2 separate regions of the Homo sapiens genome follow, and region 1 is linked to region 2. The links come from fine-mapping of genetic effects on gene expression. Tissue or cell type: liver. Region 2 holds a variant in brackets; the other region holds the start of a gene. All regions are shown on one strand. Distances are between the middles of the regions.

Region 1 (8,140 bases), 48 kb before region 2:
TCAGAGACACAAAATGTCATGAGAACTTGGGATGGGGGCTACTGTGGGCTGGGAATGTTACAAAAGACTTCTTGGGGAGATGCAAATGAGGAACTGGTCTTGAAGGATGATTAAGATTCATATTAGTAATACAGAGGATGGGGGAACTGAGCGAAGACATAGAGAGAAGAACGCACCAGGCAGGTTTGCGAAGGTGTTAGACCTGGTGGTAGGCTGGAGCACAAAATTCATGTGGAGGAGTGGTAGGGGAGAGAACTTGTGGAGGGCCCTAAATTCTAAACTAGGGAGTGGAGACTATCTTGGTAAGCAGAAGGGATCCAAAGAAGGTTTTTGAATAGTACATAAGTAGGTGGAAAGTGAGAGCATAAAAGCAGGGCCCTTGAATCCAAAGGGTCCATTGAGACAGGCTAAAAGCGGGAGGCCACTGTGGTGTTCTAGGCATGAGGCCATAAGGTCTGAAAAGTGGGAATGAAGAAAGCCAGACGGTGTAAGTGCCACAGGAGCAATGGACAGTTCTTGGAATATTTATGGGGATCAAAGGAGAAAGAGGAGGCAACCACCGTGAGCCTGAGGAACTGGAATTATGATGACACCATTGACAGAAGTGGGAGGCCAGGCTGGAGGAAAAAAAGGTTGGTTTGAGACAGATGGTGGCACTGTTAACAGTGCTCTGTAGGGAAACTTTGGACACAACTCACCTTCATGTCCTCAAAGTTTGTTATCCCCATCTGAGGGAGGTTTGAGCAGTTGACGTGAATGAGTTTTCGGCCACTGATGAAGTTTGTGATAAAACACTCCTGTCAATACAACAAGGACATCACTTAAAAAATGTACTGCAAATAGAAGGAAGAAAGGGAGGGAAGGGGGAGGAAGGGAAGAAGTCGTGTTTGTTCTACCCTGAGAAAAAAATATTATTTTGTTTTTTCTTTTTTAGAGACAGGGTCTCACTCTGTCATCCAGGCGGGAGTGCAGTGCTGCAGTCATAGATCACTGCAGCCTCGAACTCCTGGACTCAAGCAGTCCTCCTGCCCCAGCCTCCTGAGTAGCTTAAATTTACTTTCTATCCCAATAACGGCACAATTTTTCCATGTAAGCTCTTTATTAAATTTTACACTGCTCTTTAACTGTTTTTTTGGGCATGGTACAACCAGTGCTTCTTCATGTCTCAATTACATTTGTAAGTATAGTAGGTACAAAAGGTTTCAGATCTTGTATTGTTTTGTGGTAGCCTTAAACCTAGTTGGCATCAGTGAAACAAGAGGTTTACACTGACTTTTTACTAAAACTAGTTTTGGTTAACTGGCTAACTTGAATTAATACACTTAAGTGCTCATGATACAGGTGACATATTTGGGGCAGACACTTTAAAAAGTAATAGCACAAGTTCAAAGCAAGGGAGCTGCCACTAAAATAACTTGACAAAGTACCAAAAAGCCTACCTTGAACAAAGTCTACTTAAAAATACAGTTTTCTATGAAAGGAGGTCTAAGGCCGGGCACGGTGGCTCACGCCTGTAATCCCAGCACTTTGGGAGGCTGAGGCTGGCGGATCACGAGGTCAGGAGATGGAGACCATCCTGGCTAACACAGTGAAACCCCGTCTCTACTAAAAATACAAAAAATTAGCCGCGCATGGTGGCGGGCGCCTGTAGTCCCAGTCCCAGCTACTCAGGAGGTTGAGGCAGGAGAATGGCGTGAACCTGGGGAAGGTGGAGCTTGCAGTGAGCCGAGATCGTGCCACTGCACTCCAACCTTGGCAAGAGCGAGATTGTGTCTCAAAAAAAAAAAAAGAAAGGAGGTCTATATACTCTTCTTGGTCTTTTATTCAAGGATTGCAGAGAAGTGTAATCACTGGAAGAGGAAAAACAAACCGATGTGACCCTCCCTTCCTCTCCCAAAATACAAATATACATCAGTGGCAAGGCCAAAATTAAAATCCAAGTTACCTCTACCACAGTCTAGGACTTTTTGATACTCCTTCCGGTAAAGAGGTAAGAGCTCAGGCCAAGTTAGAAGGAATAAGAAGTAGACGGATGACAGCATGTGATTTCAAAACATCTTATTTTTGTATACCTTGTATTGAGGGAAGCCTAGCTGGCTAATCCACTCTGCAACTTCCTCTGGATCCCAATTAAGATGCTCAAATTGTAACTCAGTCCCTTTTTCTGGCTGGGTTTCGTCATCTTCAGAGACCCGTTCCTTCAACTCTTGGGACAAATCTACAACTTCCTTTTCATGAACGAACTCACTTAATTCTGTCTGAGACTCTGAGGGATCTGAGTATGAGCATTCTTCACTGACATTAAGCAATTTTTGGAGTGGTTGCAAAAACTCATAATGTGTACCAATTGATTCTTCACTTTCTCTGAGAGATCCTAATGCGTAATATTCTTTTCTAAATTTGTCACTTAGTGACAACTTTCCTCTTTTAGGCTCACGGTGCTCTAGCTCATCGTTTCCTACAGAATACTTAGACTTTATTGGTTCTGGCCTGTCTTCCTTGGAAAATTCTACATGTGTCTCCCTTGGTTTGGTTTCATCTGGTAACTCTAGAATTTTCTCAGTTGGCTTTGTTTGTGTTTTCTCTTCAACTTGTGGGTTGATCTCCTGTGGTAGCACTGGACCAGTCTCCTCTGGTGGCTGTGGATTTTTTTTCTCATTTGACTTTCTTATCTCTTCTGGACTTTCTGGTTTCATCATTTCTGATTGTTCTAGAATTGTTTCCTCATTTGTTTTTCTTGATTCTTCCTCAGGAAACTCTAATTTGATCTCTTCTAGTGGCTCAGGAACGTTCTCATCAGTAGACTTTCTTGGCTTGTGGTCTGGAAAGTCTGGTTTAGTCCGCTCAGGTAGTTCTGTCCCTTTCTCCTCAGTTGCCTTTCTTTGCATCTCCTCTGGAACCTCTGGTTGAGTCTCTTCTGGAGGCTCTAGACCTGCCTCCTCACTAGACTTTCTTGGTTCCTTCTCCAGAAATTCCAGTCTAGCCTGCTCGGGTGGCTCTGTCCTTTTCTTCTCAGTTGACTCTCTTTGTGTCTCCTCTGGAGTCTCTGGTTTGGTCATCTTTGGTGGCTGAAGATCTGTCTCTTCAAGTGATTCTCCTAGTTTCTCACTTGGAAAATCTTGTTTGGTCTGCTCTGGAGGCTCTAGACCTGTCTCTTCATGTTGCACTCTAAGTGATTCCTCTGGAACCCCCGGTTCAGTCTCCTCCTCTAGTAATTCTAAATTTCTCTCTCTGACTGTGGCCCCCGAAACCTCAGACATGGTTTCCGTTGGTGGCACTGGATCTGGATCTGTTTCCATAGCTGACTCTAGGAACACATCCTCTGTAACATTTGGTTTAGCCTCCTCTGGTGGCTCTAGGTCTGACTCTTTATGCGTTTCATCCATAGGGGCCTCCAAATCTTTGAAAAACTCTCCCATCTCTCTGGATGTTTCCGACTTTACCTCTTGGTGTATCCCTGGTTCAGTTTCGCTTGGTACGTCTCTCTTGGACTCCTTGGCAATTCCTTCCTGGGACGTCCCGCCAGGTTTCAGCTGCACGTTCTTAGCACTGTCTGGCTCCCCCTCTTTGAAGTCCTCTTCCTCGGTCTCTGGCTGTGGCTCTTGGTAAATCTCTGCTGGTAGCTTCGAGTCTGCCTTTGCCATGGTGTCTGGTTCGGCATTTTCATACAATTTATGAAGTCCAGGCAGTTCAGGCCTCTCAGGCTCCAGCTCTCCATCTTCATCTGGGCCGGAATCATAATCCTCCGGGACTTCAGCCATTTGCAGCTTAGCAGACGCGCCGCGGCTTCCTAGCAACCCCAACTTCCGATAGCGTCTCTATGGATACCACGATTTCCGGCAGTGTCTTCCTGACTCTTCCCCAGGTTTTGTTTGTTCTTTCAAGCCCTGACTTTAAAAATCGTCTGTCACAAGCACGCAGTAACCCTCCCTGCGGCCTCATCGCCAGCCTCAGCGGGCCAGAGCTCCTGTGGCCGCCCCTGGGTCAGCTAGCTTTTCAAGCGGCCGCCGCGCCGCTTCTTCCGGCCTGCAGGCTGCGCTCGGCTGTGCTCGGCGCTCGCTCGGCCTTCGGCTGTTTCCGGAGCCACTCGCGGCTGGCAGCGGAGAGCTCCGTGCGCGGGCTGCAGATGTCTGACCTGCAGGCGGCTGAGGGGCCGGGCTCCTGGAGCCCCACAGCCCGCCCAGGGTCGGCTGGCGGCGTCGGGGACTGCCAGGGAGTGGAGGGGAGCCAGGCGGCCGCCTCAGGTACGCAAGGCCGGGGCGCTGGCGGGTGGGTGCCGCCCGGCCTCAGGGCCCCGCACCACGGCGCGAGCCTCCGCCGCGCTCTGTCCTGGGCTTCCCCGCGGAGCGGACCCACCTCGGCAGCCCCTTCGCGCGCGGGGCCCCTTCCCCGCCGCTGCCACCACCCGGGCCCTGGGCTCGAGGTTATTTTCTACTCACTCCTGTTTCGAAATGCCTTGATTCCTGCCCCGCTTCCTTTCTGAGATCTGCCCAAATGGTAGTGACAGGGTGGCTCTGCCCCTGGCGCCTCTTCAGCTTCAGTTTCAGCTTCAGCCGGGGTTCGGGTCCCACCTCCGTCTGCTAATCACATCTAGACTGCCGACCCGAACCCTACTGGCCTCGCCGCCCCCTGCTTCTGGCTCCCCACCCTATCCCCATCTCAGTCCCCTGCCCCAGCCTTACCACGCGCCTCTCGGCCCCCACCCGGGTTGGCAGCCTTGCCTTCCTCTGCCAGAAGCCCACTGCGCCCTAGCCTTCCTGCACATAGGCCCCCTGGCCTTGCTGCCATCCTCTCCATCGCTTAGAGTGGGAAAAATGAAAAGCAGAGTTGAAATAGGTAGTGTCTGGGGTCTTTTGCTTGAACACAGTAGCCAAAGCAAGAGCAGGAATTAAAAATTTGGCCTACCTCCCTCATTCTCAAGACCCTCATCCTCTTCTTGTCCAGGACGACGTCTCCATTTCTACTAACGCGAGTTCCTCCGTGTGTATTATTTCAGTGTCCAAAGACAAAAGAGTCCATCCATCACACTTTCTTCTTTCAGCCTCCTGAACACCACACACGATGCAACTGAAAGGATGCTCTTTTGAAATACGAAAGGGTAGAGGGGAGAGAACTTGTCTTATTTAAGTAGCAAATATAAATTAATTTTCTAGGTCTGAAATTAAAATAGACACCATAAAGTATAATGGTTGAGGCACTACTGTGGAGCCAGGGTGCCTGGATTGGAGTCTGAAACGTCAGTTTCCTCATCTGTAAAATGTGATTACTAAAAATATCTGCCTCATAGGATTATTGTGAGGATTACTTGAGCTGCTTTGTCTAAGGCATTTGGGGTATAGTCCATGGTACACACTATACTCGTCTCAACCATTGTGACAGTAAGGTCTCTTTTTGTTCAGTTGAACTTCCTGTGCCGCCAGAGGTGTTCTTGGATGTATGGCTTCCAACATGGTGCCTTTTTCTGTCTTCTACTCTGATCCCAAGTATCTTCCCTCTCATAATGCTGCCTTATTCAAACACACACACAACTCACCCAGCTCTTTCCCATGATTTTATATTCTTTTACTTTAAAACACCTGACAAATTTTGCCTTTTTTTCTTACGAACTCTGCTTTGTATTAAATTAAAAATCGTTGGCATATATTTAACATAGCAGTAGAAATTCTAAGCATAATGTCTAAAAGACTAAGCAAGTAAACACAGAAAGGTAAGTCTTATAACACTTGTCCCTTGCATGCGCCAGTATTTACAAATTAAGCATGTTTTTACTTCCCCTTTAGGTTCTCATGTGTTTATGGCAAACGTACCCACGCGTTTTAGATAGATGAGTGTGTTTTTTTTTCCCCCTGACATCTAATTCATTCCTGCATTCACTTCCTCCCAGGACATTGGTAGAGATGCTTACTTTCCTTCCTCTTACCCTCAGAATGCAGGGTGATAATTTTTTTTTTTAATGTCATGTAGGGGTTTATTATAGTAGCCCAGAGCAAGCTCTTCCTCTTGAGGTAGGATTTGTTGCTAATAAAATAATAGTAATGATAACCTACAGATATTGAATGCTTATTCTGTGCCAGAGGTGGAAAAAAATTTATATTTTCTGATTTAGTCATGTCAACAATCATTTTCTTCCCATTTTACAGAGGAACAAACTACAGCTGAGAAAGGTTAACTTACCTGTTCAAGTTAGCGCAAGTTTTTACTGTCTGGATGAAATTGTCATCTTGTTATGATGAAGTCTATAATTGTTTGTTTTTATTGGCCATGAATCAAGTATTGGTACTCGCAGACAGGTTATGGTCTCTGTCCTCAAGGTGTTTTCAGTTTGATGAGATGAGAGATCCATTTCAGGGAGAAACAATTAACAATTCAAAACATTATATAATTGGGCGTCTTTTATTACAATTCTTTATCTACTAAGAAACCTGCTTGGAGTTAGGAACGGAATCTCTCTTGCTTGTTTATTTATCTAGAGCCCTTGATGTTGTGTTTTAGAGGTTTCGCAAATATTTGCTGAGTTTGATGGTGAGAGAAAGTCTGAATGCAGAGATCTGGATGAGCATCTAATGAATGTGAAGAATTAGGGTTGAGATAACCAAGAATGTTCCTTGGGTTAGAGCAATGGTTTTCAACCAGGTACGATTTTGTATCCCCAGGGCATGGCAATGTTTGGAAACATTTTTGCTCGTCACAACTGGTGGCAGCTATTGCTGACATCTAGTGAGGATAGGCTAGGGATGTTTGCTAAACATCCTGCAAGGCACAGGGCAATCCCCATAACAAGGAGGTATCTGGCTCCAGATGTCAGTGGTGCTGCTTTTGGGAACGCTGTGTTAGAGTTAAGCTGGGCTTCCAAAGCAGTGTGGAAATACTATATTTGGCCTGGACCAGAGGCTTGGGCGTAAACCCCAAAAAACTGCTTTAAACTTGGAATTCGTTTGATTGGATCCTTCTGCCATCTTCCTCTAGAAAATGATACAATGAGTAAGCAATAGAGCTCTAAGAAAGAATGAAATTTAATGAGATTTCTCTCACCCTTTCAGAGAGAAAACAGCAGTAAGAAATGGAATTGGATATTCAGGTGTTCTGTTAGTCCATTTGGAATACCTGAGACTGAGTAATTTATAAGAAAAGAGTTTTAATTGGCTCATGGTATTGCAGGGTGTACAGGAAGTGTGGTGTTGGTATCTGTTTCTGGTGAGGGCCTCAAGAAGCTTAGAATCATACTGAAAGGGGGAGCAGGTATGTCACATGGCGAGAGTTGGGAGTGAGAGAGAGAGAGACGGGAGGAGGTCCCAGACTCTTTTAAACAACCATATCTCAGGTGAACTAACTGAGTGAGAACTCACTTATCATCAAGAGGATGATGCCAAATCATTCATGAGGGATTCATCTCCACGATCCAGTCACCTCCCACCAGACCTCACCTCTAACATTGGAAATCACATTTCAGCGTGAGATTTGGAGGGAACAAACATCCAAGCCATATCAGGTATTGTTGAGTTAAGGGTTTTGGTTTTTTGGTGTATCTTATTCCTTCAAAGCAGGAATGTGTCATTATCCAGAATAACCATAACTTGTTTTTTAAAAGTGTTCTCTGCAGAGAATACCTATTGAGTGTCTTCATGTTTGTTAGCTGAGGTTTTGGTGAAAAGGAAGGAAAGGATTTATGTTCTTATGAACTAAGCTCTCCAGTGGTCATGGTGTTCTTATTGTTTTATGCATTGTAATTGTTTTTAATAGTCTTTTATTTGAGGCACCTGGGTTCTTCAGTTCCCCAGAGGAGAGATAAATCATTCTTTAATTATGAAACTATCTGAGGCATACTTGTTGCATCACTTAAAGGCAGGTTTTTTTGTTTTTGTTTTTGTTTTTTTTTTAAGTTTAAAGGAAAATAAAACTCTATTGTGATCCTGAAGTCAGCAGTAGAACTTAGTTTGGTGTGTATGTCCCCCAGAGCTATCAATACATTTAGATGTTGAGGATGGAAACAGGTCAGGTAAACTTGTTCATGGTTCTAAGGTAGAAGTTAGAATATTACAATAAGTCTTTTTGCAGTGATGAAAATATTTCATATCTGTCCCAGCTACTCAGGAGGCTGAGGCAGGAGAATCACTTGAACCCAGGAGGCAGAGGTTGCAGT
Region 2 (8,185 bases):
GCCTGGCGAGAGAGTGAGACTCTGTCTCCAAAAAAAAAAAAAAAAACAAAAACAAAACACTAAAAGTTAGGAGGAGCCGTATCTTGGCCAGGCGTGGTGGCTCACGCCTGTAATCCCAGCACTTTGGGAGGCCGAAGTGGGCAGATCACCTGAGGTCAGGAGTTCGAGACCAGCTTAACCAACGCGCCTGTAATCCCAGTACTCGGGAGGCTGAGGCAGGAGAATCACTTGAACCCAGGAGGTGGAAAGTTGCAATGAACCTGAGCTCTTACCACTGCACTCCAGCCTGGGCATGACAGAGCAAGACTCCATCACAAAAAAAAAATAAATAAATAAAAATAAAAAAAAATAGTATGAGTATGTGTATCACCTGTTTATCCAGTAAGTTTGCCACTTTCCTTAATGGATATGTAAAATTTCTGAGGAACACAGCCTATAATTTTTGCTTTGTTCTCAGGTATTTCCTGATAGCACCTCCCTACTGCTTTCCTCCTCCTGAAGTATTTCTGGGGACTTGTTACTTCCATAGAGTTGGAATTACCAGTATCAGGCCCCTCCATCATTGTTCTTCCTTCACTGTGGCCACTCCCACTCTGGGAAGACCACGTACATATCTAGTCTCCCTGTGCCTCTAGCATATCAGGATCAGGTGTCTGCTGAGTGTGATATGGAAAGGAAGGACTTGACTTACCACTCATCCGTTTGAGAGAAGCCCCTACTGGAAAATGTCCTGTAAAAAGGTGATGGTCTTTGCTACGATTTAAATGTTTATGTCCCCTCTAAAATTCATGTTGAAACTTAATCTCCAATACAACAGTATTCAGAGGTGGGGCCTTCAAGAGGTAAAGCTCCTAAAAAGTCATCTCATTTCATCCCCAGAAGCTACCCCAATCTCTGTACGGCATCTCTGCCCAGAGGTGGTCCTGGTTCTGCCTGAACACTGCCAAGCATGGGAACTTGCTCCCTCCAGGGCAGCCTGTGGTACACTGCTACCTGCTTGGTCTCCTAAGCTGGCCTGGTCAGTAGCTGCTCACACTGCCCACGGGGGAGCCTGCCTCCCATTCCCAGCACCATCTGTGACTGGATTTACCCCGAGTGCCTAATCCTGGGACTGGTCTGGAGAATGCTGGCCCTGAAGACGAGGGACTGGTTGAGAGGGCCAAATGGCCTCTCAGTGCTGGAGTGGAATATGTTTTTTTTTTTTAGATGGAGTCTCACTCTATCTCCCAAGCTGGAGTGCACTGGTGCAATCTCGGCTCACTGCAACCTCCACCTCCCAGGTTCAAGCCATTCTCCCACCTCAGCTGGGACTACAGGCACCTGCCACTACACCCGGCTAATTTTTGTATTTTTAGTAGAGTCGGGGTTTCACCATGTTGGCCAGGCTGGTCTTGAACTCCTGACCTCAAGTGATCCACCTGCCTCGGCCTCCCAAAGTGCAGGGATTATAGGCATGAGCCACTGCGCCCAGCCTGGAGTGGAACATTTAACAACGGTACCATTCCTAGCCCTGAGAACTCAGCCAGTCACTAGATGCTTTCCTGCTTCTATCTGTTATCTCCCTGGATCTTGTCTGATTCTTTCAGGCAGGCTTTTGGGTATATTTCTCATCATTGCCCTTAGGTCCCATGGGCCAGGCCTGCCACAGGGTAGGCAAGTGGCTGACTGACTTCCTCTACTGGTCCAGGCACAGGGGATTCCAGCTAGGGACAGTGTTCATCTTCTGGAACCTAGCTCAGTCTTAGACAAACAAGGTAGAGGCCTGGGCTTCAGTTTAATTCACGCCAAATTTCAGCGCGGGCATTCTTTGGAGTCACACACAACAAAAGCGGATGAGAAAAGGCACACAGCCTTCCCCGTGGTGTTACGGTGAGCACGCCAGGCATTTTAATCCGCATTCTCATCTCAGCCTCACGACTGCCCCGTCACATAGATAACAGTATTCCTGCCCACCCTGCTCCCCGCATCTCCCTACTCCACCCCACATGCGTGTGACAGATGAGGGGACTGAGGTGGAACAAGTTTCAGCAGGAAGGCAGATCCAGGGCTAGAGTTCGAGTCTCCCATCTCCTCAATTAAGACTCTCGTTTCCAGGCCTCTTCAGCCCACCCAGCTTCTGCTCCTGTGGCCCTGTGCCAACGGGGCAGGATTTGGGAGCTAGGCCCTCAGCTCAGTGGGTGTATCTGGCTGCCGGCAGGGGTGAGACACCTGGAAGGCCTCCAAGACCAGCAGCCTCTTGTTGATGGAGCTGATGGTAGGGTAGGGGGTGAGATCCACCTTGAATCTGTAGTAGAGAAACACCTGCTAAGCTAAGGTTTTCAGGGACACAGGGAGACTGCCCTGATGCAGCAGGGGGAGCAGAGAGGCAGGGCTGGATGAGGTCGAGGGAGCTGTCCAGGGAAGGACGATGGGGCAGCCCTTATTCACAGGGGATGGGTAGGTCTTGTGCAGTATCATTTGGCATCTGTTACCTACTGTTCCTATTTCTTTGTGAACCTGCTATGTGTAAGGCCCAGTGCTAGGCATTTATATATACAGACTCTCTTCCCCCATGTTGTAAGCTTCTTGGGGGCAGGGAATGTGCCATACGTTTCCATATCCCTAACGCCTAGCATGATGCCTTCCAGAGAGGTGCTCATTTGTGCCCTACCAAAGGGTTCACGGAAGGATGCAGAGGTAGAGCTCACTACTGCTCACAGACACACCACATTTGAGGACATCAGGCAGGTGCTCTTGGGGGTCCACCAGGTGAGCCACCTCCTCTTAGGAGCTGGGGCTATCTATACAGGTTCATCTGGGCTGTGGTGGGCGTAGTAGGAGCACTGCCCCAATTTCTTCTGCCCTCTTCCAGGCAGAAGTGGCTATGTGGCCTGGCATGGTGGGCTCCTTGGCTGGTTGGCGAAGCGTCTGCATGAGATGCTATCTCGCCAGCTGAGTGGGGCCTGACTGTGGGCAGAGCCACGAGAAGGGAGGGTGGCGGGGCTCTCTCTTACCTTTCAGCATTTGCCACCTGAGGCACCAAGCACAGATCAGCCATGGTCACCTGAAAGAGGTCCCGGTGGGTTCCCATCAGGGTGCATACCCCAGAGTCAGTGGCTGGACTGGGTGTGTCCACTGCGACTCTACTGGGGGTACCAACAATCTGCTTCGGCTCTTTCACCCATCCCACCTCCAATTCTTGTCTGCCCTAGGCCTGCATGAGTCTGTCCCCCGGAGCTGAAGTGCCCTCCCAGGCCATGCTCCAGTTGCCCTGACAACCAACTCTGTGGGTTGAGAGGGCCAGAGAAGATGGATTGC[C/T]TTGACTGCGCAGACATCATCTAGCACAATCCCTCAACTGATGCTGGCCCGCCTCATCCTCTCACAGCCAGTCTTCTACCTTGAGTAACTCCCTCTTAAGACGGTTTAGTGGGAGTGAGCTGAGGAGTGCCCCATGGCACAGAGATCCCCCTGCAGACGCCTTCTCAGGAAGCTCTGAGCTTGAGGGAGGTCAGCATGAGGGAGGCAGCCACTGTGGCTGGGCCTGGGGAGGTCTGGGGACAGCTTACCTCGTCTCCTACACAGTATATGCCCGCTGTGCTCTGTAGGATCTGCTCCAGGGCTGTGGGGAGGCCACATAAACATCTTATTCTGGGCGCAGGGAGGGGACACAAAGCTTTCTGGGCCTTGGCCTCCATAGTTATGAAATGGGCGCCCAACTGAGTGACAGACTGGGCATGGCTGCTGGTGAGAATGTGGCAGCCAGGTCTCGAGAGAGCTGTTAGGGATGAGCTGCTGTTTCCTGAGGCTCCGCACAGACAATCACCATTTCCCCACTCGAGTGGACAAGCCCTGCCACTGGCCACGGTGACAGCTCTCACTCTGATGGCTGGCGCTGTGCTGGCCTTGGTTTCCCAGCTGGAGTAGGCAGTGAAGCTGAAGTTGGGCCATCCAGCTATGAAGGGCTGTGGGCTCAGGGACCGAGGTTCCCAGAAGTGCTGGAGCTAAGGTCTGGATGCCCACCCAGCCCATTGCCTCCCCAGTCCTGCCCTCATCCATGCAACTGTCAGGCCCAAAGCAGCCTGGGAGGCTGGTTCAGATACCCAGGCCCCTGTGTGCGAGGGCCATACCTCTAAGAGGCCACTGTGGGGCAGCTCACAGAGGTGAGGACTCACCGTTAAAGCCACAAGTGATGGCGTTCTGGGCCCAGGTCAGCTGCATCTCCTCTCCCACTTGCTTCAGGACAGACAGGTTCTGTGCAGCCCAAAGAAAATCTGTGATTGCGCTGACAGCTGGGTGGGGGCTACCCCTTCGCCAAACCCCCTCAGGGAAGTTCACTTCCCATCTGCCCCTGGCTGGATGTCTATCCCTTCTCCCCCAGGCTCCATGAGCCCCTTCCTTCAACCAAGGGCCCTGAGGTTGGAGGGAGGTAGCCATCCCAGCAGCCACCTTTGCAGGCTGCCCCAGTGGCCTCAAAAAGCCACGTGATTCTGTCAGAGATGTGCAAGAATCCCTATTCATGTGACACAGGACGCGGCCATGGCTGTGGCAGGTGTGCCCACAACTCGAGGCCTGTCTCCCTCACTTCTCCCTTGCATGGTCCCTTGTGAGGAGAGGGAGTGTGAAAGAGGGTGGGGCTGGGATGAGGGAGGTCCACAAGACCGGCTTCCAGAGATTTCCAGCCTGGCTCCATCTTGGCACCCCTGGAGCCATTTTCCCTCTGTTTCCTCATTATAAAATGGAGATGTCTGTCTGCTCCAACATCCTTTGTTAAAGCGACATGCGGGTAGAGGGCATAGGCATGCAGGGATTCTGACTTAGTCCCCACTTTGTTATGACCTACCTGTGGGACTCCTAAGTCACTCCACCTTTCTGGGGCTATTTCCTCATTCAGAGTAGAAGCTGGCACAGATGAACTGTTTTTAATACTTAGTTGTCTGTTTTAACAGTGACACTTAAAAAATAAAATCCTACAAGTATCCCAGTATATGACTGAGATAGCACAGATGAAACGGAAGCTGCTCTGGTTAAAGGCAGGAGGCCTGGACTGGGGCCTGCTCAGTCTCTCCCCTGCCATTCTGGCCCTTTCCCCACCCCAAGCACCTGTACATGCGTCCTTGGAAACTAGAGCTTCTCGGAACGCAGCGGGGGACCCGCTGGGGGGCTGAATTCTGAGATTGCGATCTTCACCCCCTTCTTTCACATGGTCCAGGTCAGAGGCCCTGAGAATCCCCCTCCCTCCCTTGACACCCCCGCCCCCACACTGGGCAGCTCACAGCCAATGTGTGAGTGTAAGAGTGTGTCAGGTGTGCAAGGGTGCAAGTGTACAAGTGCCACACCTGCAGGGGCTGGATGCCACCAGCGATGAGGTCAGAAATCATACGCACGCTGGCCCTCTTCTTTGGGTCCTGAGGCAGAAGTCGCGGAGTGGGACGCATCTCCTCTAGATACTCAATGATGGCCAGCTGTCCAGAGGGGAGCAGTGAGGCAGGGAGAGGGCCCAGGACCCCTGGACCAGAGGGGACAGGGCCAGCAAACTCCTCCTTCTCCTCTTCCAGCACCATCACTACACCTCTTCCCCCCTGCTTCTGCTCAGCTCAAGCCCTATAAGCCTTTTTGGACCTTATCATGCAGAACTTGGTTCTCCATGTGCTTGAATCTTCCCTTATTTTCCTAAATAACCTCGCACCCTCCCCACGAGTCTTGTATTGAGCCTCTCCTATGTGCTAGGCACCTTGACTGTACACAGGCGAGGAAGAGATGTCAGGCGCTCTCATTCAGGGCACTGCTCTCATGAGGGCCCTCCCCCAGGCCCTGCACTCACTGACTGGTGAATGGTGATTCCATCAATCTTCAGGGTTGGCACCTGCTTCATAGGATTCAGTGCCTGGAAGTCCTTAGAAAACTGTGGAGACAAGGCCCTGGTGGGCTGGGTGGCCTGGCCTGAGTTGGCCAGAGGAAAGCCAAGCAAGCAGGAGAACCCCAGGCCTGCCACCCACCCCCATCTCCCTTCCCTGGGAAGGCCCTAAATCCTAGGCCCAGGGTAATCCCTGGGGGATCCATGCAGTCTCCCAAAGCCCAGCTGCTGCTGAGCCATAGGCTTCATCCTAACAGCCTGGCTATGGGCTTTCCCTGCATCTCACACCGTGGCCACCAAGGCAGCTCCTACCCTAGTCAGCCATCCAGAGGGCCCAGTATGGGGTGGGGACCCACTAGCCACCCACCCTCCCAGGGTCAGGCACTGGAGAGCCCAGGCTAGGGTACACAGTCTGGACCTGGGCCCTTCCCAGGCCTCCTGCTACTGCACACCTTGCCACCTTGTCCCACAAGGGAGAGCCAGCAGCCTCCTGCAGTGATAGTCCACAAGACACAGGTTCACTTCTCTGGGGCAGAGCCTCCCCTTTTTCCCCTGCCTGGTGCCTGTTCAAGGCCTCCAATTCCCACATTGTGGTCTGGGCACAGCCTTCTTACCTGTTGGCCCCCATCCTTTATGAGATTGATGGGCACCGTCTCGTAGTCGATGCCTTTCAAGGCCAGAGCTAGGAGAGACCGCACATAGCGGAGTCAAAGAACAGCCTCTCGCCGTACTCTTAAAGGAAAGAGCCCTTCTAAGGTGACATTAAGGCCAAAGAGGGGGAGGCTTCTCTAACACTTCTGGGTGGTCAAGGCTCACCGTGGCACTATCCCCTTCTCTCAGCTTTCCTTGTCACCACGTGCTCCCTACCCCAGATGCACGATGCTCTGCCTCACTCACCCCTGAACTCTTAGAGACCTCAAGATCTGGACCCCCCCAATGGGGCCCTCATGCCCCCTGGATGGTGATAAAGGTGTATGCCCTGGCACTCTGTGGGCTCCTGGAGTTCAGCAAGGCTGTGTTGTGTTTAACTCTGCCCCCCCAGGGCCTTAAACAGTGGTGACCAGTGTCTTGGTTGAAGACATGCAATTACTCCCTCAAGAAGGCAACTAAGGGCCAAGGGAAGGAGCTCAGGTGGCCACACACAGCACACACAGACAGATGGCACTCTTGTTCTGTTGGAGAAGAATCTCTTCCAATCTATTCTCTCTGTTCTCAGGGCTGTTTACTAGAGATTCTAGACAGGCATCAGGCTCTTTGGTGGCCTCAGAGCATTTGCCGTGACTCCAGTCACCAGATTTCCTCTCCATCCCTTTTGATAATTTCCCCTGGCAAGCTGAGGGTAAAAAAAACTTGGGTGGGTCAACACTAGTGGAGAAGACTGCGTGCGTGTGCATGCATGTGTGTATTACACACACTTGGGCATTCAAGTATGGTGATGGCCAATCTCAGGGAAGGGCAAAGGAATGAGGGGAGGAGGACCAGACATGTCATGGTGTGGAGAGCCTGGGCAATACCAGGCTCCTCCTAGTGTTGGTCAGCTCCAGTCTGGGGAGTGACAGTGTTTGGGGCTGGAGGAGACACCTGGAGGAGGGAAGGCCAAAGCACACAGGCCGTACAGACAGCACCTATATTGCTCCGGCTTCTGGCTCAGCCAGGGCAGAGGTACTGGCGCCCAGGGATGGGTTCATCTTCTTGGAGGAAAGTTTCTCCTGGCACCCAGTGCTCTTGCTTACTGATCCCAGCAAATACCAAGTGACTATGGGATGGAGGAGGGGTCACGGAGGATGGCTTTGCCTCCACACTCTGGAGGCAAGCTTCTTGGGTTCAAATTTCATCACAGTCATTTGCTAACTGTGTGGCCCTGGGCAAGTAACTTAATGGGCCTCTGGAGCCAGACTACCTGGTTCAAATTCCAGTTCTGCCTCTTAGTAACTGAAAGATCTTGGGCAAGTTACTGAATGTTGCCTGTTTTTTGTGCCTCAGCTTCCTCCTCTATACAATGGGGACAGTAATAATAGTACCTCCCTCCTAGGGTTGCTGAGGTTTAAATGGAATCAGGCACACAAAAGCACTCAGCACAGAGCTTTTCCTCAGTACAGGCTGCTTTGGTTATGACCTTTGCCAAAGGCTGTGTTAAGCCAAGGGAGGGAAGGGTCAAACAAGGACTAGCCACAGGGCCCTTGTTTCTGCTTTTCTGAAGCCTCCGAGGCTGATGCTGGCCCGTTCTGTTTGCTTTGCCAGTTCAAATAAAATAAGAACTGAGAAGGGCCAGCTGTTCCCCTGCCAGTTACCAGGGGCATGTGGATTTTGTGACCCTGCTTTAAACATGGTTGCCAAGGGGCTTTGGAGAGC

The links. PIP is the estimated chance that this variant, and not a neighbour inherited with it, causes the effect.
Region 1: TMED8 starts here. The variant in region 2 is fine-mapped to the expression of TMED8 in liver (GTEx, PIP 0.98).

What each region holds. Positions count from the first base shown.
Region 1 is chr14:77,373,040-77,381,179 of GRCh38, reverse strand. It overlaps TMED8 (transmembrane p24 trafficking protein family member 8), which reads left to right and starts at 4,086. Exons shown (of 6, transcript NM_213601.3): 1 at 4,086-4,244. The coding sequence starts at 4,127. SAMD15 (sterile alpha motif domain containing 15) reads right to left here and starts at 3,801. Exons shown (of 3, transcript NM_001010860.4): 1 at 2,073-3,801; 2 at 699-797. The coding sequence starts at 3,761. RefSeq lists silencers at 505-685, 4,079-4,508 and an enhancer at 3,819-4,028.
Region 2 is chr14:77,325,168-77,333,352 of GRCh38, reverse strand. It overlaps GSTZ1 (glutathione S-transferase zeta 1), which reads right to left. Exons shown (of 9, transcript NM_145870.3): 3 at 6,448-6,515; 4 at 5,801-5,881; 5 at 5,316-5,441; 6 at 4,152-4,230; 7 at 3,546-3,598; 8 at 2,994-3,043; 9 at 1,756-2,284. The coding sequence ends at 2,158. Among named protein-coding and RNA genes, the nearest start is that of GSTZ1, 8.2 kb to the right of the region's middle. RefSeq lists an enhancer at 2,552-3,751. The variant C/T (reference allele first, on the strand shown) is at 3,298.